Regions from separate parts of the Homo sapiens genome. Here region 1 is linked to region 2. Evidence: fine-mapped expression QTL. A gene starts in region 2. The other region holds a variant in brackets. All regions are shown on one strand. Distances are from middle to middle.

Region 1 (12,297 bases), 77 kb before region 2:
GACATATTTTCTTATCCTCCCCTCCTCCAAATACAGCTCAATGAAATATACGAACTAACACATACAATAACTGCACAGAATCTGTTATTTGCCAAAGAGAAGGGCCTATGTGTGGACCTTGAAACCTCCCCTTTCCCCCCAAAAATGCACACCTCTGACTCCGGCCTATTCCACCTCTCTTCTTAAAATTTTTTTAAATTTTTGTGGGTACATAGTAGGAGTATGTATTTATGGGGTACATGAGATGTTTTGATATAGGCAGGCAATGTATAATAATCACATCATAAACTTCCCACCCACCTTGTGTCTGCTGTCAGAGTGGTACCCAGGGCTGGGCTTTTTGCTAAGGAATGGCATCAAAATGGGCCCTCTGGGGCTTCAGCCAAACTCAGCTGGAGCTTCCAGTTTCTGTTCTATTCATTTTCCGTCAGGAAAAATACCAAAACATTCTAACAAGTGTTTCCATAGATGACAGCTACATCCCTTTAAAGAAAGCAAACTCCATGTTGCAAAGGGTAAGTAATATGGTTGAGCAAGGGTTGGTTGACTATGACCTGCAGGCCAAATTCACCTGCTGCCTCTTTTTCCAAAAATAAAGTTTTATTGGAACACAGCCATGCCCATTCATCCGCAATTTGTCTATTGCCCCCTTTGCACAGCGATGGCTGTTGAACAGTTGTGATGGAGACAAGCGGCACACAAAGCTTAAAATATTCACCCTCTGGCTCTTGATAGAAAGTTTGCAGACCCCTGTGGTTTGAGCACAGCTTGACCTCTTTCTTCTAAACAATTAATGAATTCAAGCTTCCAAGTATTTTACCCCAGGGCTCCTGTTTGCCTCTGACAGCTGATTATGTATAATTATTCTCAGTCAATTTTTACTGTAAGATTTTCGAAAGTGGCAGTATAGTTGATTGCCAGGGCCCTTAGGTCACAACCACAGATGGCACAACTTAAAATGAAAGGACCCACCCATTAGCACTAGTATGTTATTCCAGATGACTGCTGAGAATACGAGTAGCCTCACCACCAAGTGTCCTGGAAAAAGGACAGCTACCCCTCATCTCATGACTTGGTGAACTTCATATACAAGGTTTTCCCTCATTCTCTGGTTTCTACTGCCTGGACAATTACCAATAGGTAACACCTGGGTTTCTTGTTTCCGCCTCAGCTTCCTGGGCCATGACTATTGAAGGATTCTGTTGTGAGGTAGTTTTTGTAGGAATTATTTTTCCAATCACAAACAAAAACAGAAAACACTTCCGACTCCAATTTTAATGATTAAACTAAAAAGCCTACTATAAAGAGATCAGTAATTACACCTGGTATTTATTCAGTAATCTCTAGAATGAAATTTCTCAGTCTTTTTTATTGCCCCTTAAGGAAGCTTTTTTGCCAATTTTTTAAAAAATTACCCTTCTCCCCATAAAGTTTTAATATCACAGATATACTGTATATCTGTGTATGTACCATGGCCCTTTGCAAGATCACAAACGATTGTAATGGTTTTGTCACCCCTACTGAGAATGCATTTTCTAGGACAATTGACTAATAAATTAGGAAAAAAGGAAAAAAATAATTCAGCATGTTATTTTATGATTATTATTATTATTATTTTAATTTTTGAGATGGAGTCTCACTCTGTCACCCAGGCTGGAGTGCAGTCGCGTGATCTCGGCTCACTGCAAGCTCCGCCTCCCAGGTTCACGCCATTCTCCTGCCTCAGCCTCCCGAGTAGCTGGGACTACAGGTGCCCACCACCACGTCCGGCTCATTTTTTGTATTTTTAGTAGAGACGGGATTTCATCCTGTTAGCCAGGATGGTCTCGATCTCCTGACCTCGTGATCCACCCGTTTGGCCTCCCAAAGTGCTGGGATTACAGGCGTGAGCCACTGTGCCCGGCCTATTTTATTATTTTTTTGGAGACAGAGTCTCGCTCTGTTGCCCAGGCTGGAATGCAGTGGCACGATCTTGGCTCACTGCAACCTCCATGTCCTAGGTTCAAGTGATTTTCGTGCCTCAGCCTGAGTAGCTGGAACCAGATGTGCACCACCATGACTGGATAATTTTTGTATTTTTAGTAGAGATGGGGTATCACCACGTTGGCCAGGCTGGTCTTGAATTTCTGGCCTCAAGTGATCCGCCTGCCTTTGCCTCCCAAAGTGCTTTGATTACAGGCATGAGCCACCGCACCCAGCCCCATCTTGTCACCATTTTAAATAACCTTCATTTATTTATCTGATCTTAGGGACTCAGGTGATAATGTGGCTCCCCTTCCTGGGTGAAAGCCTCACTATCCTTGCCCACTTTGGGTCCACTTTGGGTGATGAACCAGGTATGTGCTTGAGCCCCCTTGTACAGTGGGAGCCAGGTCTACCCTCAGGGCACAATTAACAGCTTCTTCTTTTCAAGTCTGTGTTCACTTAAAAAGTTTGAGACCCTGCCAGCCATCTTCGGCCAAGTCTACTTGACCCATTGTCAGTTAAAAAATGTGAGAGTTGGTCCAGGATGAGGCTAAATACAATGTGATTGAGAATGTTCCCTGCATGAATAGAGGCCATAAAGTCTCTTCAGGAAAAAATCAGAACTGGCACATACTCCAAGGCAATTTTCTCTAGGATACCTCTCAGCCCATGTAGCACTCTCAGTCCAGAAGCAAAGCTAATCCAGCATAAGAGGTATTGCTGTCAATCACCCTAAAGAGGAGCGGTCCAGAGAGGACCAGGATGATGGAGGGATTCAGGAGTAACCAAGAAAAAAAAAAAAAGAACACTTCAGATTGCCTCATGTGTTTAAACATCTTAGGAGATTTATACTTAGTTCCAGAGTTTGAAAATTAAATAGTGATGGTTACCTAAGAAATGGAACAAAACAAAGGCAATTATTGACAGAAAACAAAAAATTGTATCATATAAAAAATCACAACGCACTATATGGCTCATCTGGGAATAATATTTACATGGTTCTAATAATGTTAACATTGAGTATTGATCTTAGGCTGGCATGTGTTTTTATCCCCAGTATTTCCAGTTGCTGATGTCTTCCTCAAGAACACTCAAATACTAGGCGGGGCGCAGTGGCTCACGCCTGTAATCCCAGCACTTTGGGAGGCCGAGGTGGGTGGATCACCTGATGTCAGGAGTTCAAGACCAGCCTGACAAACATAGTGAAACCCCCTCTCTGCTAAAAATACAAAAATTAGCTGGGCGTGGTGGTGCACACCTGTAATCCCAGCTACTCAGGAGGCTGAGGCAGGAGAATCGCTTGAACCCAGGAGGTGGAGGTTGCAGTGAGCCAAGATCACACCACTGCACTCCAGCCTGGGCGACAGAGCAAGACTGTGTCTCAAAAAAAAAAAAAAAAAAAAAGAATACTCGAATACCATTTAGCACTTGCTGATGTTTCTCATCGAGAAATTATGTAGGCTGGCCATTCATTCTTCCCACCACCCTATGAGTCACCATGATCCTTTAACTAATGTCATAATTGGTGAAAAAAGTCTCGATTGGTGCTTTCTTTCTAAAAGGGAACTCATCCTTATATCAAAATGCATCCACTCCAGGATGGGGCGTCAGCCCATGAAGTGGGACGGCTATACTTCACACTGGGACACCCTGTGGTGTCCGTGATTGTGACTAAGTTCTGGATATGGACAACCCTGAAACATCCAGCTTTTGGAAGTGGGCTCTCCCACAGTAAAATGGACAGGAGTGGGGTGGGTGGGTGGGTGGCGTGATGTCTTCTCATCAGGATTATTTTTAACTGGGCCTTTAGGAACCTGAAAGAACCATATCAACGTTCTCTTACCACATGTGTTAGTTTCCTATGGCTGCTGTAACAGGTACTAACTTTGTGTCTTACAACACAGTTAATGATTTTATAGTTCCGAAGAAGTCTGAAATCTGTTCACCACCTTACAGTCAGGGAGGCAGCAGGGCTGTACTTGCCTGGAGGCTCTGAGGGGAGAAGTCATTTCTTTGTCTTCTCAGCTTCTAGAGGCTGTCCATTCCTTGGTGATGGCCCCTTTCATCTTCAAAGCCAACGCTGGCCTCCCTCTGACTCTGCTTCTGCTGTCAGTCCCTTCTGTGACTCTGACACTCCCACCCCTCTCGTATAAGGACCCTTGTGATGACACTGGGGGCACCCACTGGATAATCTCCCCATCTCAACATCCTTGGTTTAATCACATCTGCCAAGTCCCTTTTGCCATGTGGGATAACATTCTCCAGTTCAGTAGATTAAGACATGAACATCTTTGAGGGGCCATTTTTCTGCCTACCACACCAGGGGCTCCAGGTAGTGGGTCTGGTTGGGGGAGGTTGAAGGGGTTGGGATCAAATGGAGGGGCTATGACCACTACCTTCTCATTCTAAGTTAGAAAAATATTTAGGGTCCTTGGCCAAGGGTTTCCTTCATAGCCTGTCCTCCCAAATAGCTCCAAGCCAGGTGTCTGGATGTCATCCACACCCACCTGTGCCCTCACTTGACAAAGAGATTTGTTTAGACTTGCAATTTCACCATCTCCACAGATCTGCGGTTCTCAAAATAAATTTCTAGAGCTGCAACTCAGCCTGTTTAGCTAGCACGTCATGGAGAGTCCTGCAGTGTCTTGGGGGATAGAGATATTTAATTTGGCCCTGGCGTGTGACACCTTCTCCTTCTTACCTCCTTCCTCCTGGCCCCCAAGCTTGCATTTACTATGGCTTGTGGAGAGTTAAGAATCCCACTATCCTATCCTACTCGTGAATTGCTTGACATCAGGGCATCCTGTGCTACCAGAGCTAGATCCTTGGCAGTGCTGGGATAGCCTCAGGGTCCCCAGGGCCTGTGGCCCCACTTTGGGATGGGAAGGCAAAGAGCCCCGGGGAAGAGAGCCATGAAACCTTCCCTGCTCCCTTTCCAGGCAGAGGCCCGCCTCCCTCCTGACTTGGCTTCTTTTTCTGCATTCTCATTTGGCGTTTGACTAGTCACGTCTCTCTGTGGCAGATCAACGTGGGGACTCCCTGATGCTGGGAGAAATTTTACATTTTAAATCGCTGAGGCCCCAGGGTGATGGGAGAGCTCAGACTTCCTTCAGCTGGCACCTCTGCTACAGGAGGGATCCTGGTCCTGGGAGACAATTTTGTACCAGAGAGCACCTGGGTGGGGAGAAGGCAAAGAAGACTTGCCCTAGAGTGAAGTTTGAGGTGTTGGATACCATACTGTATTGTTTTGTTTCTGAATTAGGTTGTCTATTCCTGGCTTTAAGAGTGTAGAAAAACTCCCTGATTTTCGAGAGATTGTGAAAATTTTACCCACTGAATTGATTTAAAGAGACAGTAGAAAACAAAATAAAACTGCATTTTGATTACGTGCCATAAGTCAGGTATGCTTTGTTCAACACACCCAATACATTAATTTCCTATATGAGGGCTCAATATAAATAAATTTGCCTGCCTGCAGATTCACTAAGTGTTCTCTAACATATCATTTCTGTTAATGCTCTTTTATTTTTATTTATTTATTTATTTGGAGACGGAGTCTCACTCTGTCACCCAGGTTGGAGTGCAGTGGCGCGATCTCAGCTCACTGCAACCTCCACCTCCCAGGTTCAAGTGATTCTTCTGCCTCAGCCTCCCAAGTAGCTGAGATTGCAGGCGCCCATCACCATGCCTGGCTAATTTTTGTATTTTTAGTACAGACGGGGTTTCACCATGTTGGCCAGGCTGCTCTCGACCTCCTAACCTCAGATGATCCACCCGCCTCGGCCTCCCAAAGTGCTGGGATTACAGGCATGAGCCACTGTGCCCAGCCCCTTTTATTTTTTTATTACTATTTTATTTATTTATTTAAGACACAGTCTTGCTCTGCCGCCCAGGCTGGAGTGCAGTGGCACAATCTCAGCTCACTACAACTTCCGCCTCCCAAATTCAAGCAATTCTTGTGCCTCAGTCACCCAAGAAGCTGGGACTACAGGCATGAACCACCACGCCCAGCTAATTTTTATATTTTTAATAGAGATGAGGTTTTGCCATGTTGGCCAGGCTGGTCTCAAACTCCTGGCTTCAAGTGATCTGCCCACCTTGGCCTCCCAAAATACTGGGATTACAGGCATGAACCACTGCGCCTGGCCTTTTTTTTTACTATTAAAAAAAATTGTTTTAGAGACAAGGTCTTGCTGTTACTCAGGTTGGTCTTGAACTCCTGGCCTCAAGTGATCTTTCTGCCTCAGCCTCCCAAGTAGCTGGAATTACAGGCACTAGCCACTGCACCTGGCTTATTAACCCCTTTTAAAATTTCCCCATTGTATGCCTGTTGGGAAATGTACCGGAAACCTAATTCAAGTGTCCTCCCTTTCCAAATAGCACCCCCTCTTCCAGGCCACTTGATCACTTCAGTGGGGGACAAGGAGTAGACTGGAAGCTGGAAGGATTTCCTCCTCGCGAAACAATTGGCCAGTG[T/C]GGAAGGCCAGACCATCTGGGCCCAGCACAGAGGCTGCTTTCTTCCAAGAGGAATGCTGAGCACAGAAACACCCTGACCCTTGGCTGTTCCAATCCCTGTTAGGATCCTCTGTTCCGGGGCCCTGGAGTAGGACCTGCAGGTCAGTCCTGTTCTGTGACTGCTGACAGGACCCTGCGTCCTGATGGCTGCTTGGTCTCTTCAGACTGGGGCCTGGCATAATTTCCCTCTGCCCACCTCAGCCTGGATCACTGGCAAGGGAGCAGAGAGACTCTTGAGTAGGTCACTACTTGGACAACTGGCAGGACTGGGGTAGTCATCTCTTATTCAGTGGGCACTGCTGGGGGTCAGGCATTGTACTGGGTGCAGCACACCTCAGGTACTTTCACAGAACATTCTCAGCTGTCTCATGAGGTAGATGTTACCATCCCCATTTTGTAAGGAGACTAAAGTCCTGTCTCCATCAGGGAAGACAGGATGGCGTACTCAGAAGGTTTAATTGAAAAGAGTTTAAGGAATGGACTATTTACAAAGGTGTGGGCAGAATTAAGGGGGCTAACAAGCGATGACGGAGCCCCCAGGGGTTAGTAGCAGCTGGAAGCCATGATCACCCCCAGGCCTAAAGGGGAAGAGAAGGCAAGTCACCCCTACCAGACAAGAGCTGGGATCAGGGAGAGTGTGGGAGCACTGCAGAACCACCAGAGGGAAGGTGGCAGTGGGGAATGAACACCCTCCCGTCACCTCTGCTACCACTGCTTTCCAATGCCCAAACTCAGCTGAAAGCCAGAGGCCCAGGGCGCCTGGTGCCACAGCCCACAGAGCTCAGCCTCCCGAGAGGCCCAGGGACACTAGACGGCGCATGTCCTGAGAAATAATCTGACCAGAAGTCCTGTGCTGAGATTTAAACGCTAGTTTTCCTGAAGCCACTGCTGTCCTTCCTCCCATTGTCTACACTATCAAAAATAGCAGCTAGAAGTCAAAAAGAAAAAGAGATGGACAAGGAAATTAAAGTTCAGCTCATAGACCAGTGGCATCCAAAGTGTATTCTGAGGTACACTAGGCTCTTTTGTTGCCACATAGTTTGACAAAGGCTTTATTTCATATCTCCCAGTTGGAGCTCCGAAATGTGTTTTAGCATATTGAAGACTCTGAGATGTAATTAAGCCTAACTAATTTTCATTCTTTTCTTCAACTTAATTGACCATGAAAACTTTTTCCATTCATATAATATCATGGAGACTTTGTATTCTTTGAAACACGCTTGGGGAAGTACTGCTGTGAGCAATGGGGTTTGATGCAGGGAAAGGCTGAAGATAAATTTCGCTGCAGTGTAGCAGGTGGGTTTGAAGAGGGCAATGAGGGAGACAGGCAGATCAAGCAGAAGGCTCCTCCAGTAATCCAGGCAAGAGATGAGAAAGGCTGGAGCCTGGGAAGCAGCAAGAGGAGGGAGAAGAAGAGCCAATTCCTCCTTGGTAATGGGGCGAATGGTGAGTCATTATGCAATGGGCCGATCTGGAGGAGAATCAGACAGAGGCTGTGAGATATTCAGGCCAGTTTTTGACACATTGAGCATAAGGTGCTTTGGTATAAACAGATTTTTTAGTTGGAAATTGGGGGTGCAAGATTAGAGTTTTGGCAAATGGTTGCTGCTCAAGGTACACATTTGAAAGCCATCAACATATGGGTGATGATGGAAGCCCTGGGGGTGGTTGGCACCCCCCCAGCTGAGAAAGTAGAGCAGAGGGTCTAACTTGGCTTGAGGGTGTGAAGAAACTCCTGAAATTACTTAGGGTATTATGTGTCCATGAATATAGGCATTTTTACTTATTTATTTTAGGGATGACTCTCTCATAGCTTCTAGCATGTTTTCAAAGGTGTCCTTGAAAAAATAAGTTTAAGAACCAGTGGTGAAGAATGAGAAGAGAGGAAGATCAAGGGTAAAGTCTGCAAGAAGAGTAATCAAATAAGTCTGACACCTTTGAGCCAGAGGGGTTGGAGCAATGCAGGATGCAGGGGCCGCAGGATCCAGAGCAGAAGGAAGGATCAGCAATTTCCCGTGATCCGAGAGTCGAGTATGATTAGGTCTAGAGATAAGCCTTTGGATTTGGCAATTAGAAAGTCATTGCCTTGTCAAGAGCAGTGTCAATTTTGGGTGGAGGAGATTATAGAGGATGGAATAGTGAGTGGCTTGGGAAGAAGCTGTTGGTGTGAGAAGAGACCAAGTCCTTCAAGAGGCTTGTGGTCAGGCTGGGCACAGTGGCTCACACCTGTAATCCTGGTGCTCTGGAAGGCTGAGGTGGGAGGATCACTTGAGGCCAGGAGTTCACGACCAGCATAAGCAACACAGAGAGACCTCATCTCTACAAAAAAAATTTAAAAGTAGCTGGACAGCTGAGGTGGGAGGATCACTTTAGCCCTGGAGTTCGGGGCTACAGTAAGCTATGATCTTGCTCAATGTGTACCTTGAGCAGCAACCATTTTCTAAAACTCTAATCTTGCACCACCAATTTCCGACTAAAAAATCTCTGTTTATACCAAAGCACCTTATGCTCAATGTGTCAAAAACTGGCCTGAATATCTCACAGCCTCTGTCTGATTCTCCTCCAGATCAGCCCACTCCAGCCTGGGTGACAGAGTGAGATCCTGTCTATAAATAAAAAATTAAATAAGATGCTTGTGGTCAAAGCAGGACTAGGATTAGGTGTTTATACTGGTTTGAAATTGAGAGCAATAAAAGTTTGATATTCAGGACCCACCCCTGAAGACACTGTTTTTAAAGGGAAAATTATAACCTACATACTGAAAGACAAAATGTATCTAGGTGCATTTGGGCAGGTATAACAAACTAGCATAGACTGGGGGCTTATAAACAAAAGAAATTTATTTCTCATAGTTCTGGAGGCTGGAAAGTCTAAGATCAAGATGCCGGCAGATTTGGTGTCTGCTGAGACCTTGCTTCATGGTTCATAAATGGTCATCTTTTCACTGTGTCCTCAAATGGTGGAAGGGTAAGGGAGTTCTCTGGAGCCTTCTTTTAAAAATAAAAGGCACAATCCTATTCATGAGGATTCCACCCTCATGACTTAATCACCTCCCAAAGGCCCATCACCTCATACCAAAACCTTGGGAATTAGGTTTCAACGTATGAATTTTGGGGGGCCACAAACATCTAGTCTATAATACTGGGAAAATAAAATATATGATTCATGAAAGTTATCAACACACACACAAAAGCAGCAAGCAGATCTGGGGAGAAGAGGCTGAATAAGGATAAATGTTGAGGAGCAGAATTGATAGGACTTGCATTGAAATTGGATTTAAAAGAAGGAGAGGAGTTAGGGCTGACTTGTAGACTTTCGACTTGAGCCAGCTGGGTGAAGGGTGGTGTCTTTTACAGGGTTGAGAAAGACTGGGAGAAGAGCAGGTGAGGAGCGGAAAGCAAGATTTCTATTCCAGATGTCTTAAATCATGTGACACGTCAGAGTCCTATCAGATGCCCAAGTGGAGAGGTTAAGATAGAGATAGAGTCTGGAGCTGGGGGAGAGGATAAAGTTGGAGATAGAATTTGGGAGTCATTGTATGTGGATGGCATTTGAGCTATGGGCCTAGATGAGTTCACCTTGAAAATGAGTATAGGTAGAGGAGATGCCCAAAGACTGAGATTTAAGCACTCCTGCATTTAGAGGTTTAGAGGGAGGAGAAGGAAACTGCACTTGGCCAAATACAAGACAAAGTGATCTTCTACACTCAGGAAGAACACACTGGGAGAGGTTGCTTTCTGAGTACAGTACTCCTGAGTCTGTATTCATAACCACTGCCATAGCCACTAGGGTAGCAGTCATCTTAGCAGAATTATCTGTTCTGCATTTATTGTCAGCCCCAAGCAACTTACCCACGGTCAAAGATCATAGGAGCTTATTGAAACTTCAAAGCCCATGCTCATTCAGGGCAGGTGGTCCTGCTGCAGCCAGTGCTCAGCACAACTCCAGGGACGCTAGTCCCATAAACTATAATGCAAACAGCGCCCTCTGTAGGGCTCAGCATGCACAACCATATGTGCCCTTTCTTACTATGTCTTGCTGCCTTGGCATCTTTTCTGCAAAGTTCTGCTACTTTTAATGTAAATAAGTCCTTCCAAAGCCTCCTGATAAAAGGGGTTTATTACAGTGATTATAAACTTGAGCTTTAGAGTCAAAAAGAAATTTGTTCAAGTCACAGCTCAGCCTCTTACTAGCTGTAACCCCTTTCAGCTCCAGTTTTTCCATGTATGAAATGAAGAGAATTAAAGCAGTCACCTCAGAGGGATGGATGAGTATTAAAGGAAAGAAGCCATGAAGAAGGTTTAGCATGCTTTATTCAATTTTTTTTTTTTACTCAGTGTTAATTCATTTTTGTTTCTAACTCCACTTCCTGGGCCCAGACTTTGGCTCTCAGGAGAGATCGGAGGTTTTATGGAAAGGATGGGAATCAGATTTGGTTCAAATCTGCCAGCAAATTAATGAAAAGGGCACCATGGATCAGGAATCAGCGTGCAGAACAAAGATTTGCAGCTCAGCAAGCAAGGAAAATAATTTGGGTGGCTTTGTTTGGGACTGTTACTCTCCTGTTCGGGAAAATGCTGAAAGTTTATTGCAAAGTTGTTTCTTTTTTGAGTCATTTATCATAAAATTGTTTTTGTTTCTAAGCACGTAAGGAATTCCAGGACTGCGTAAAGAAGGAAACTTTGAAAAGCTGAGATCTAGGATATTGGCCATGTAATTTCATTGTGGGGCAGGGCATTAGGAACTAAAGGTAGGCTGGCTCAAGGGATTAAAATCTATTTACAACCTAGTTACCATACATGTATATCCTGTTTTCTCCCCATTGTGCTGGGCTGAGTATCTAACAAAAGATTCTCCCACATATCTGAAAATAAAATGAGCGCCTGGCTCCAGTGTCTATGAGAAATGGACATAGTATGCTTGTATTTTATTTCTATGAAAGGTGCATAATGTTTTCTAGGTTCTTCTGCTCTTTTTCATTCTTTAAAGAAATGGAAACAAAGAGGCCAATCCTGACAAGAAGGAGATGCTGGCCAAGAGCCCCAGATCTTCCTCCTGGTCTCAGAACAAAATGTGAAGACGGTCTGAGTTTTCAGTGAAGAAGGGGAAAAAATGTTTGAGTTCTGGAGTCTGACGTCATGGTCCTCTGTTGCTCCCTACCCTACCAAACAACGGTGCAATAACTTGATGTTGGAGAAAGTCACTTTTCAATGTGTATTGGGTTCCGTTATTTTTCAAGACTTCAGTAGATGTGCGCGACAGGGCAGAGTCACACCCACTTCTGCTCGCTCCAGACATACCTCATCCCACAGGAACGGGGACAAGGGGTGGCTTCCTTGGCCACCTTTCAAGAATGTGCAAGGTGAATCCTTTCAAGAGGAGGAACAATCAATCCTACTTACATTTATTTTTATTATAGAAAAATCTTACTGTATGCAAAAGTAGAGAGAATAGCACAATGAACCTCCATGAAACCCCCATCCAGCTTGACAGCAATCAACTCACAGCCCCTCTCATTTCCTCCATGCCCTCCATTCCCCCCCACCCCAGATTATTTTGAAGCAAATCTCAGGCACAATATCATTTTTCCATTAAAAGTCCTGGTGCAGTGGCTCATGCCAGTAACCTTAGCACTTTGGGAGGCTGAAGCAAGAAGATCCTTTGAGGCCAGGAGTTCCAGATCAGCTTGGGCGCATACTGAGACCCCATCTCTACAAAAAGTAAAGTAAATTAGCTGGGTGTGGTGGTGTGCGCCTGTAGTAGTCCCAGCCACTCCAGAGGTTGAGGCAGGGTGGATCGCTTGAGCTCAGAAAGTTG
Region 2 (12,297 bases):
TAAATTATGTAAAATTACAATTGAATAAAATATATTAAAAACAAATCTAATACAGATGGCAAATAAGCACATGGATAGATATTCAAGATCATTAACCATTAGGGAAATACAAACGAAAGCTATGTTTAGATATCTCTAAACACTGATGGCTAAAGTTTTTTAAAACATTGATAATAACAAGTGCTGAAAAGGATGAGGGGCAACCAGATCTCTTGTACATTGCTGATGGCAGTGTAAAATGGTACAGCCATGGCTGGGCATGGTGGCTCACGCCTGTAATCCCAGCACTTTGGGAGGCTGAGGCGAGTGGATCACCTGAGGTCGGGAGTTCAAGACCAGCCTGATCAACATGGAGAAACCCTATCTCTACTAAAAATACAAAATTAGCCTGGTGTGGTGGCGCATGCCGGTAATCCCAGCTACTCAGGAGGCTGAGGCAGGAGAATCTCTTGAACCCAGGAGGCGGATGTTGTGGTGAGCCGAAATTGTGCCATTGCACTCCAGTCTGGGCAACAAGAGTGAACTCTGTCTCAAAAAAAATAAATAAATAAATAAAAGGTACAGCCACACTGGAAAATTTGGTAGCTTCTTTTCCTTTCTTTTCTTTTCTTTTCTTTTCTTTCTTCTTTCTTTCTTTTCCTTTCTTTCCTTTCTTTCCTTTCTTTCTTTCTCCTTTCTCCTTTTCTTTTTTTTTTTTCTTGACAAGGTCTTGCTCTGTCGCCCAGGCTGGAGTGCAGTGGCACAATCTCAGCTCACTGCAACCTCTGCCTTCCGGACCCAAGTGATCCTCCCATGTTAGCCTCACCACCATGCCTAGCTAATTTTTGTTTTTGTTTTTTTGAGAAGGAGTTTCACTCTTGTAGCCCAGGCTGGAGTGCAGTGGCGTGATCTCGGCTCACTGCAACTTCTGTCTCCTGGGTTCAAGCGATTCTCCTGCCTCAGCCTCCCAAGTAGCTGGGATTACAAGAACCTGCCACCATGCCCAGCTAATTTTTGTATTTTTAGTAGAGATGGGATTTCACCATGTTGGCCAGGCTGGTCTCGAACTCCTGACCTCAGGTGATCTGCCCACCTTGGCCTCCCAAAGTGCTGGGATTATAGGCGTGAGCCACCATGCCCAGCCTGCCTGGCTAATTTTTGTATTTTTTGTAGAGACAGAGTTTCTCCATGTTGCCTAGGCTAGTCTCGAACTCCTGGGTTCAGGGGATCCTCCCACCTCAGCCTCCTAAAGTGCTGGGATTATGGGCATGAGCCACTGCGCCCAGATCGGTAGTTTTTTATAAAGTTGTACATACATTTATCATACGAGCTAGCAGTCTCACTCCTGTGTATTTATCCTAAAGAAACGAAAATTTATGCTCACACAAAAACCTGTACAGTGTTCTAGACATAAGAAAGTAAATGAGAAAGGTTAATATTGCATACTAAATTTAAAAGTGTGCCATGTCTGTACATTGTAAATAGTACAAAATATTGAGGGATATTCTAGTATTTGAAAACAGTTATCTGATTCACAAAGAAGTCACTCATGCTATTGAATAATGAAGTTCCCAATATACACCTTTGTTCTTTTACTTTCATTTTAATCCTTAATGTAAACAAAAATACCAATCAGTGTTCATGTCAGAATCATACCTGATATATGTTGAATAAGGAGTCTTTAAACAGAAATACAGGTAAAACAATGTTAGATATTAATGGGCTGATGAAAATGTAACCAGAGGCCCTCAGGAACCTTATTCTGTATTTCCTCTAAGAGCAATGGTTCAATATTCACGATTTCAGTGTTTGAAGCCACTTTATAGAACTTATAGAACTACAGAGAATACTGAGAACCCACTGTATATATGCACACATTTCTCCCTGCTAAGAGCTGTTTTTTTTTTTTTTTTTTTTGAGACGGAGCCTCGCTCTTGTTACCCAGGCTGGAGTGCAATGGCACGCTCTTGGCTCACCGCAACCTCCGCCTCCCAGGTTCAAGCAATTCTCCTGCCTCAGCCTCCCGAGTAGCTGGGATTACAAGCATGCACCACCACGCCCAGGTAATTTTGTATTTTTAGTAGAGATGGGGTTTCTCCATGTTGGTCAGGCTGGTCTTGAACTCCCGACCTCAGGTGATCCACCAGCCTCAGCCTCCCAAAGTGCTGGGATTACAGGTGTGAGCCACCGCGCCCAGAGAGCTGGTTGTTAAACATTACCAATACACCACTGACTGCAGGAGCTCACCACACTGGGGGCTGCCAGCAAACCACATGGCTGCAGCCTGGCAGTCCTGTCTTAAAGTGGGATCTGAGTGATACATCTCCATGTTGGCCCCAATTTCCAAGCCTACAGTTAGAGAGGTTTATATTTGGGTCACAAAGATGTAAGTTTGAATCCTACCTCCCCAATTTACTAGTTGTGTGTCCTCAGGCAAGTAACACTGTGCCTCAGATCCTCAATAAGAGAATAGCTATTTCGGTTTTGTTGTGAGTCCCAGTGAGATTGTGTCATGTATGTGAAATGCCAGTACATGGTAGATAGTGTGAAAGGAAAATATCTTGGGTCCCCAAAATCACTAAGGAAAACTCAAGCTGGAAACTGCTTAGGGCAAACCTGCCTCCCATTCTATTCAAAGTTATCCCTCTCCTCACTGAGATGGATGCATATCTGATTGCCTCCTTTGGAAAGGCTAATCAGAAACTCCAAAGAACGCATCTGTGACCTGGAAGCTCCCTCCCACTTCACTTAGAGTCTTCCTGCCTTTGCTTCAAGTTGTCCCACCTTTCAGACCGAACCAACGTACTTCTTACAATATTGATTGATGTCTCATGTCTCCCTAAAATGTATAAAACCAAGCTGTGCCCCGACCACCTTGGGCACATGTCATCAGGACTTCCTGAGGCTGTGTCACAGGCACGTCCTCAACCTTGGCAAAATAAACTTTCTAAATTAACTGAGAACTGTCTCAGATTTTCTGGGTTCACAAAAGTGACTAGTATTAATCCTCCTACACATGACCCCAAACTCCAGTAAAGGCACAGAGATGCCCCATTCTGTCTGCTGCTCAGTCCTTCGATTACGGAGGATCAGACTGCAGTAGCATTGTGCCCAGTCATTCTAAATCAGTTTTCAACACGAGTACTCACTCCGTCTGAAAGGCCCAGGCTGGGTCCTGCAGTGGAGATGCCCAAACCTGAGATTTTAGAGATCTGCTGCCTGAAAAAGTTTCCCTCTTTCCAGGACCATACAAGGGGCCCCCTTACAGTCTAACTCCTGATGCTTTCCTGTCATGACAGGAATAGTAAGCAATGTTCTTGCTGGTGTCTCGGTGTCTGGGGCTTCTGGTTTTGTGTGGGGTGGGGAGGTGGGGGGGGAGTGGGGGTGGGGATAGAGGATTTGCTTAGTCTGTTTTTCTCCCAGTTTCTCAATACCCTAACCTGGGCTTCAGAAGCCCAGGCTGTCCCAGTTCAGATCTTGCTTTCTCTGACTCAGCTTTACCCTCAAGACACAGTCTCATCTCTGAGTCATCAGACTGGTCTCCTGCTTTCGAGGACAGCAGTCTGGCACTCCCGCTCCATCTTCCCAGGAAAGGTGCTGTCTCCACACCCCAGTCCCAGCCCCATGCCTAACTTGGCTCACAATACCCAGAACCAAGAAACAAATTCTCCATGAGATCAGAGAATGCCCAGAGAAAAGGTTCCAGGACCAGGAGTTGTGGAATGTCTGGTTTCAGTTCCAGCTCCACCAATTTGCTTGTGTGACTTTGGGCCAGTTCTGGAGCCCACCTGAACTGGGCTTCCTCTTCCCTAAAATGGAAATATGATCCACACTGGGTCTATCCCACAGGGATGTTGGGAAGCCCAAATGAAAATAGTGTGAAGTGCCCCCAAACAGGAGAGCACAAACCCCTGGCCTGTAGGCTGGATCTGATCCATAAAGCCATTTCCTTTGGCTTGAACAGTGTTGACCTATGTAGAAAGTGTTTAGCATTATACAAATGAGCTCCTAACAAATTTGGGGCCTTCACTTAAATATCTGACTTATGGCTTTTTTTTTTTTTTTGAGACGGAGTCTTGCTCTGTCACTTAGGCTGGAGGGCAGTGGTGCGATCTCGGTGCACTGCAATCTCTGCCTCCTGGGTTCAAGTGATTCTCCTGCCTCAGCCTCCTGAGTAGCTGGGATTACAGGCACGCACCACCACACCTTGCTAATTTTGTATTTTTAGTACAGATGGTTTCACATGTTGGCCAGGCTTGTCTCAAACTCCTGACCTCAGCTGATCCACCCACCTTGGCCTCCCACAGTGCTGGGATTACTGGCGTGAGCCACCGTGTCCGGCTGATGGCTTCTTTTTCAAAATGGGAGGATCTGGCCACATGAATCCCTTTCCCTAGATGACAAAATAGACTGAGCTGAGTAGCAGCAGCCCCTTCCCTTGGGCAAGAACCTGGAGCTGCTATCAAGCTCACCACAGTCCCCACCACTCCCTACTATGTCCCAACACTGGGACCAAGTCTCTGCTGCCATTTATTATTGCTCTGGGATATTGATTTGCTCCAGTGGAGCTCTAGTGGAAGTGAAATCGTTCAAATAACCATATTTCTATAAAAACGTAAAATGAAAGTCCTAGAAAGTACTCCCCCATCTGGGTCACAATGTCAAAAACGAAACCCCTTTGCCTAAGTGTTAGCCCTTGCCAATGGGCCCATGAAGGATGCCCATTGTGGGGGTCAGAGCTGGCATCCGGAGTCTTACGGGGTCCACGGCCCTCTACTTGCCTATCTCTGTTGTCTTCATCTGTAAAGGAGGAGTAGCAGCAGCTCCTTTTTCCTAGGGTTAGGGTGCACAACGCCCACCAGGCACTTAGTGAACTGTTCATTCAAGGTTAGCGGTTGAAACGCAAACATTTTGAACTGATAAAAAACTCTGGTGGGCCGGGCGCCGTGGCTCATGCATGTAATCCCAGCACTTTGGGAGGCCGAGGTGGGCGGATCACCTGACGTTCGAGACCCGCCTGGCCAACATGGTGAAACCCCGTCTCTACTAAAAATACAAAAGTTAGCTGGGCGTGGTGGTGTGCGCCTGTAGTCCCAGCTACTCGGGAGGCTGAGGCAGGAGAATCGCTTGAACCAGGGAGGCGGAAGTTCCAGTGAGTCGGGATCGCGCCACTGCTCTCCAGCTTGGCCATAGAGCGAGATTCCGTCTCAAACAGCAACAACAACAACAAACCTTTGGTGGGAGGTCGGAGTGTGAAATGAAAGACTTAGGGTTCCTGAGTGGGACTACAGCAAGGATTGGGAAGAAAAAAAGGAGATGGAAAAAGACGATTTAGGAGAGGTAAAAGTTCTGTTACTAGGACCCCAGCCCTCACTGGCCCACATCCGCTGGCGAGGACCTAACTTACTGCACCCAGCTTCCCAGTGGCCAGACCTAGGTTCCAGTCCTGGCTGGGGCAAGTCATTACCTTGTCTGGTGCTGTTTCTGCACCTATCAAATGAGGATGGAAATGTCTAGATGAACCGAGATAAACGCATACGAAAGCACTTTGGGAATCTGAAAAGCGCTATGAACAGGTTAGGAGTTTTTGGTCTCTTTTCAAAAAGTTTTTCTTCTAAGCTCATGTTTATCAAGGGCTTTTGAGTTTATCGAGGCTAAGACCCTCCCCTCGGTTTCGCAATTCTGCCCCTTCCTACACACCAAAGTCCGCGCCGCGTCAGGAGTCTTTTTTTTCTCCCCTAGCGAAGGCGGGGACTCGGGCGCTGTTGGCAGCTGGCGACGCGGGGCGAAGCCGCGGCTGGCGGCGCCTGGCCAGTCCCGCATCCGCCGCGGTGGGTGTGCCCGCAGGGGTGCGCCGGGGCCAGGGCCGAGACCGTCGGCCAGAGGGCGCCTGGAGGGTGTGCGCGCCGCGGACGACCAGGGTGCGCCAGCCCCGGGGTGCGCGCCTGGGACGCGGACAGTGCACCCGGAGGTTGCGTGCGCTCCGAAGCCGGGGTGTGCGCCTAGCTGCCCCGGCCCCGTGCACCGCGGGCCGCCTCGCGCAGGACTTCCGCAGCTCGCCAAGGTAAGGGACTCTGCGACCCCAGTCCCCCGCAGTGCGTCTGCTGGGGTGTTCAACACCCGCCCTGCGCGACCCGAGTGTTGGCCCCGGCGCTCGACCACTCTCCTCTTGCCTCTGCCACCCGCCTCGCCCAGTCCCCAGCGCCGCGTCCCCGGCTCCCTTTAAAGCAGTGGCTGCGGCAGCTTGGGCCGACCTGGCGCCCCCGCCTCCCAGCCTGGGGTCTGCGACAGAAAAGGAGCGGGGCTGCTCGGGCTGCCCAAAGGTGGGCGCCGCTCCCTTTCCAGCCCAGATTGGCTCTCCGCGCCCCAATTCTGGGGGTGGAGAACACTGGTGAGGAGGGGGAGGCCGTGCTGTCCTTGCGACTCAGGTGGTGCAGCCCCCGCCCAGCTTTTCCGAGCTAGGCGCTGCGGTCTGGGATGCAGCCTGCGGGACTGGGCGTTCTTTGCCGCGGGCTCCCACTGCTACCTGGAATCGAGCTCTTAGTCTCTCTCCTGTCGCAAAAGTCTCCCCGTAGTGCCAACCCTGGCACTCCTCGGCCCCTGGCTGAACTTTCCAGGGCTCCCTTTGGGCCGCGACCTTGGGCGGAGGCAATGGGGCAGCTCCGAGTGCTCTAGACGCCGCCGAGGGCGCTTTGCCCAGCCCGCATGCCTCCTGTGGGCTCCTTTCCCTTCTGCCTCTCCGGTAAGGTCAAATCTGTGACTGGGTACTTTGACCCCGCAGACTGGCCAGAAATGGGAGTTGGAAAGTCGAGCCCATGGCCGCTACGCTGGGTCTGAACCTAACTCTTGCCCTGGGCATCCTTCGGGGCTGCCAAACTCAAGTCTTAGTTCCTAAGCGCCCTGGAGTGCAAGCCTTTAGGGCAAAGAGGGAGTATTTTCCAGGAGAGGGAGGAGGACCCCCTGAGGCCTGGGCAAAGTCCTATCTACCAAATAGGGCCAGAGGAGGATCAGATGCAGCCAGTGACCCGGCTGAGGCATGGGGAGAAAGCATCTTGAGTTAAACACGATTCCCAAGGACCTGCTTGGGTAAATCAAGCCCAGGTTGCTTAGAGCCTCTCAAAATGTGACACAGGAAAGCTACACTGGGAATGGAGGCAGAGTCCGTTCTAATACTGCCTTTTCAAGCCCAGCCTTCCCACTTCACTGGACCATAATGTGACCTGGGGAAAGTGAGTTTTGGGGAATGGCTCGGGGATCAGACCAGACTGATTCAATCAACAAATGCTCTGTGCCAGGCACTGGTCAACGTAGTGAGGTACAGAAGTGAACAAAACTGGCACCTTCTGGCCTCATGGAGCTTGCATTCCAGTGGCCAACACCAACAGGAATTAAATCACTCACATAAATAGAGAATTCTCCAGTGCTGAGTTCTTTGAAAGGACTAGATACCCTGAAAACCTGATAGGTCCAGTAGTCGGTCAGTCTGCAGAATGACAGGAGAGAGTGGAATGAGCCTTCTAGGCAGAAGTAGCCGCGTGTGAGAGGGCCTAAGGTGAGTAGCAGAGTGGGTTAGAGGAACTGAAAGCCTCTGTTGGCTGAGTTACTACCAGGGGCCCAAATGGGCAGTCCTTTAGTTGTGCATCCCATTGACTGGTCCAGTCAGTGCCTTCCTTTCTGAACTGTAATAATGAGCAGTTGGAAGTCCCCTGGCTAGATCATAGTGTGGGGAGAAGGAGAGAGATAGACCAATAGCACCTTGCTGGACTCACTGCCCCATGTGTGCACCTTGGTCAGACAGCCCATGCCTGCTCGTGGTGCCAAGAGCAGCGAGCGGTTCATTCCCTAATGTCCATTCAGCTCACAGTGAACCAAAGCCTCTGCCCAACATTTAGGGAGATTTGTGCTAGGAGTGGTGGCTCATCCTAGACTTTTAAAACTAGAAAGAACTTGCTGACAGTGTAAAATTCCTTAGGGTGGCATACATGGCATTTCCTCATCTGGGCCCTACCTGCCTTCCCAGCCTCACTTCTGGCTCTAACACTTTCCCGGCCCCTTGCAATGAGCACCTTCAATATGTTCAGCACAATTATGCTTCAAGTGGTTCCTGGGCCACGCGTTGCCTTTGCACATACTACTACCCTTGGTCTGAAATATTATTCTTGCCCACCCAGTGAATGCACTCTTAGCTTTGAACTTCGGCATTAAACATAAGGTTTTTTCCCCTGCAGAAGGCCCTTCCTGACAAGATAGAGGCAAATGCTGCTTTCTCTTTGTTCCTAAAGCTCCCTGGACATGCTTCTGTCACAGCAAACATCAGCTACACTGAGCACCTTAAAAACAGGGCTCTCCAAGTACCTAGCACAGAGCAGGGCACATAGAAGGTGTTCAAAAAATGCTTGTTGGATGGAAACTGTCCTGTCCAGTATTTCTTAACTTTTTTATATGGGGAGGGGATGGTGGTTATTGCATATATCTTTGAGATTCTGATGAAAATTATGGATACTCTCCTCCAACTGCATAAAACCTAAAATATCTTGCATACAATATTACATGATTCACACCTCCCTGCTCCATTAACCCATTTCCAAAACTTTGGACTTCAATTTTACAGAAAATGGATGCTCAGTGAGGTGCGATGACTGCCTAAGTACCCACAGCTGGCTATGAGTAGGGATTCCTAAGCTCCTGACTTGCAGTTTAAAGCTCCTTCCAGCTCTGTCTGCTTCTCTTAGCCAAGCAGCCTCTTTTCGTTCCTGGTACTTTATGAAGGCCACTGCTCATGGCTGGAAGATGGATATCTTGGTTTTGCTTCAGTTCAGTAGCAGCCTAAGGTGTGACAGGGAGAAAAATATTATGGGCAGAGTTGACAATTAGGAAGACAGATGGGCCCTCTCCCTGGCCTGTTCACCGCCCTTTGCCTGCAATATTATTACATCTGTTTTAGCTGGAGGAGGGTCACTTGTGCTTCACAGTTACCTCCTGGGTCCTGGATTGGGCCATGTGGGCCAGACTGGGGGACGCCCTTGGTGGACCATTGAGATCAGAGGCCCAGCTATTGACCTTGTCAAAGGTTTCTTCCTGCAGAACAGGCTAAGGAGAGAACGGGGTTCTTGCTTGCTGCTACCAGAGCTCTTGCCTGCCTGGCCCCTTTCTTAGCAGATTGGGATTTTCATTGATTCAGGAATTCACCCATTCTTTGAAACTGCATTGAGCCTCTGCTCTGTGCCAGGACCCGTGCTGATTCCAGTTTACAAGACAGGGCCATGGAGTATGTGCTTGTGCACTCGTGGCTCTGCTCTGCAGGGGGAAGGGAAGAGGCAACTTTTACTCCTAGTTCAACCTGCACTTCGGTAGGTATGGTGGGGAGGATATTTAGGACTTCTTAGTGCTGAGAATATGCTTACTTTTATTTATTTATTTTTGAGACAGGATCTCACTGTTACCTAGGCTGGAGTGCAGTATCATGAACATGGCTCACTGCAGCCTCCACCTATATACTTACTTTTAAAACTCTGATGTTGTGCAAGTTATGTCATCTGTGGGCGGGGGGACTCAATTTTCCTATCTGTACAATGGGTTTGAGAACAATCCTTTCTTGCCAATTTCTGGATGATGGCGTGGATACAGTTATCACAGAGCCACTCGATTGTGTGTGAAACAGGAACAGTACAATATCATAATGTACATGTGTGTCGATCCCTGGCATAGTCAAGCCTCACCCTTATCCTAGAGTTAGTTACTGCCATAATCCCCAATGTGTAGGTAAGGAAATCGAGGCTCAGAGAGGTTAAGTGACTTGCCCAGGGTCATGGTCCATATTAAATGACCATAAAACTGGGATTTCACAGAGCCCTCTGTCTTTGGAGATCAGACGGCTAACCACTTTGTGCTACACTGTAGTAGAGTTTGTGGGAAGAGGCATGGGTTTGGAGGTCAGTGTATCCTGGGATTGGAGCCTAGATTCACCGCCAAGCAGCTGTGTGATTTACAGCTGGTCCATAACCTCTCTGTGCCTCAGGACGCCAATCTCCCAGACCAAGTTTGGACTAAGAGGCTTCTAATGGGCCTTTCTGTGAACAGCCTGCAGTCTACACAGATAATATTTCAAAGTAGGATTAAAGGAGAGAAAAGGGGCCCTCCGGCTAAAAACAGGGCTGTCACAGTTTCCAGGATAAAATAAATGCTGTCCAAGATTTAAAGTACGTAGATGGTGAATGTGATACATGGGCAGTTATAGATTGGTGGCGTCTGAAGAAGCTGGCCGAGCGTTCCTTCTCCAAGAGAAAGAAGTCCTGTTTTCAAAAGGATCACTTCACTGTCTCGCCCAGGCCCTGGGCTCTGCCCCCTCAAATAGCTTTCTGGAGACACAGGCATTGTGGGAGAAAACACAAATCCCAGTTCCATCACTCTCCTCATTTTTTCCCCAAAAGTAAATAAAACTTGTTGGTTGGATAGATTTTTTTTTTTTTTAATGTGGCTGTGGCTTTTCCCCCTTTGCATGGAAGGATCCTTTGTGTCTGCAGAGTTTCCTTTGGTATGTATTTCTAATTTGTGGCTCTGACGTCAAATGACAAGGGGGGAGAGAAATACAGCATAGGGAGAATTTGCTCCACACAAGGATAAAAGAGCAGCCTTCGGTGCCGATTCCCCTCCACATCCTGGTTTCTGCCCAGCAGCCCGGAGACGCCAGCTCTCGGTGCCATCGATTTGGATGTTCCTAGCAGGGCACCAGGCAGCAGGGCTGAGTGTTTTCAGGCGCTGCGCTCAGTTCATCGGTGTTTCCCACCCCGCTCTCCCTTCTGCCTTGGAAAATGTAGCCATCCTACTCCTGGGGAAAGGTTTAAAAGACAGAATGGAGGCTGGGCGCAGTGGCTCACACCTTAATGCCAGCACTTTGGGAGGCTGAGGCAGGCCAATCACCTGAGGTCAGGAGTTCGAGACCAGCCTGGCCAACATGGAGAAACCCCATCTCTACTAAAAATACAAAAATTAGCTGGGCATGGTAGCACATGCCTGTAATCCCAGCTACTCAGGAGGCTGAGGCAGGAGAATCGCTTGAACCCAGGAGGCAGAAGTTGCAGTGAGCCGAGATCGCGCCACTGTACTCCAGCCTGGGCGGCAAGAGCAAGACTTCATCTCAAAAACAAAACAAATCAAAACAAAACAAAACAAAAAGACGGAATGGCAAGTTCGGTAGTGGCTGAATATAATAGTGTGGTCAGGGTCTACAGTTATTAGGTACGACGTTGAGTATGAATGGGGAGGGCATTTTATCAATGTTTAAATTTAAAAAAAAATTTATTATTTTACTTTTAGCTTGGGGATACATGTGCAGAACGTGCAGGTTTGTTACGTAGGTATACATGTGCCATGGTGGTTTGCTGCACCTATCAACCCGTCATCTAGGTTTTAAGCCCCGCATGCATTAGGTATTTGTCCTAATGCTCTCCCTCCCCTTGCCCCTCACCCTCAGCAGGCCCCAGTATGTGATGTTCCCCTCCCCGTGTCCATGTGTTCTCATTGTTCAACTCTTACTTATGAATGAGAACATGCGGTGTAATGTTTGAATTTTTAAGAGATTATTTTCATGGATCATTTGTGTGATTTGAAATAAAAAATAATAACAAAAGGCATTACCCACCTGCCCCTCCATAATAGGGTGTTTGGGAGTGAGAGGAAAAGAAAGGGAAAATGGCTTCACCATTTATTATCCCCGTGAGCCTGAGAACATTATTCAAGTTTACTAAACTTCAGCTTCTTTGTCTATATTAATAAAATGGTGCTGACCTGGGGCTCTTGTAACACAGAAAACAGAGACTCCCTTGAGTTGTGGTTCCAGGAAGAGACTGAGAAGCCATAAAATGCAGTACAGTAGTACCTCCTTTCCCATGGGAGATACATTCCAGGACCCTCTGTGGATGCCTAAAACCATGGATAGTACTGAACTCTATATATACTATGCTTTTTCCTATGCATACATACCTGTGATAAAGTTTAATTTATAAATTAGCACAGTAAGAGATTAACAACAATAACAAAAGACAACAATTATAACAATAATACTGTAACAAAAACTATGTGAATATGGTCTTTCTCTCTCTCCCTCAAAATGTCTTAATATTTTTGGACCTTCATTAACCATAGGTAACTGAAACTTCAGAAAGCGAAACTGCAGATAACAGGGGTTTGGGGGGGAACCACTGTATTGATGTCTAAGCACAGGTCTGGAAGGAGGCCAAGCATCCTTGAGGCAGTTGATACCGTGGAGAGGAGTTTGAGTTCAAGGTCATTCTTCCAGTACAGCTGGTCACTGGCCTA

Which allele goes with the higher level. Positions count from the first base shown, and alleles are read on the strand shown. Sizes are in standard deviations (SD) of each study's normalised expression.
For the expression in tibial nerve of the gene that starts at base 5,715 in region 2, allele T in region 1 goes with a higher level than allele C (small effect, 0.31 SD a copy in GTEx).

The links. PIP is the estimated chance that this variant, and not a neighbour inherited with it, causes the effect.
Region 1: its variant is fine-mapped to the expression of KANK4 in tibial nerve (GTEx, PIP above 0.99). The same link has a PIP of 0.9 or more in esophagus muscle, gastroesophageal junction and sigmoid colon.

The regions. Positions count from the first base shown.
Region 1 is chr1:62,389,735-62,402,031 of GRCh38, reverse strand. No RefSeq gene overlaps it. Among named protein-coding and RNA genes, the nearest start is that of USP1, 41 kb to the left of the region's middle. RefSeq lists an enhancer at 410-1,186. The variant T/C (reference allele first, on the strand shown) is at 6,442.
Region 2 is chr1:62,312,852-62,325,148 of GRCh38, reverse strand. KANK4 (KN motif and ankyrin repeat domains 4) reads left to right here and starts at 5,715. Exons shown (of 10, transcript NM_181712.5): 1 at 5,715-6,043. RefSeq lists enhancers at 5,675-6,397, 6,398-7,122.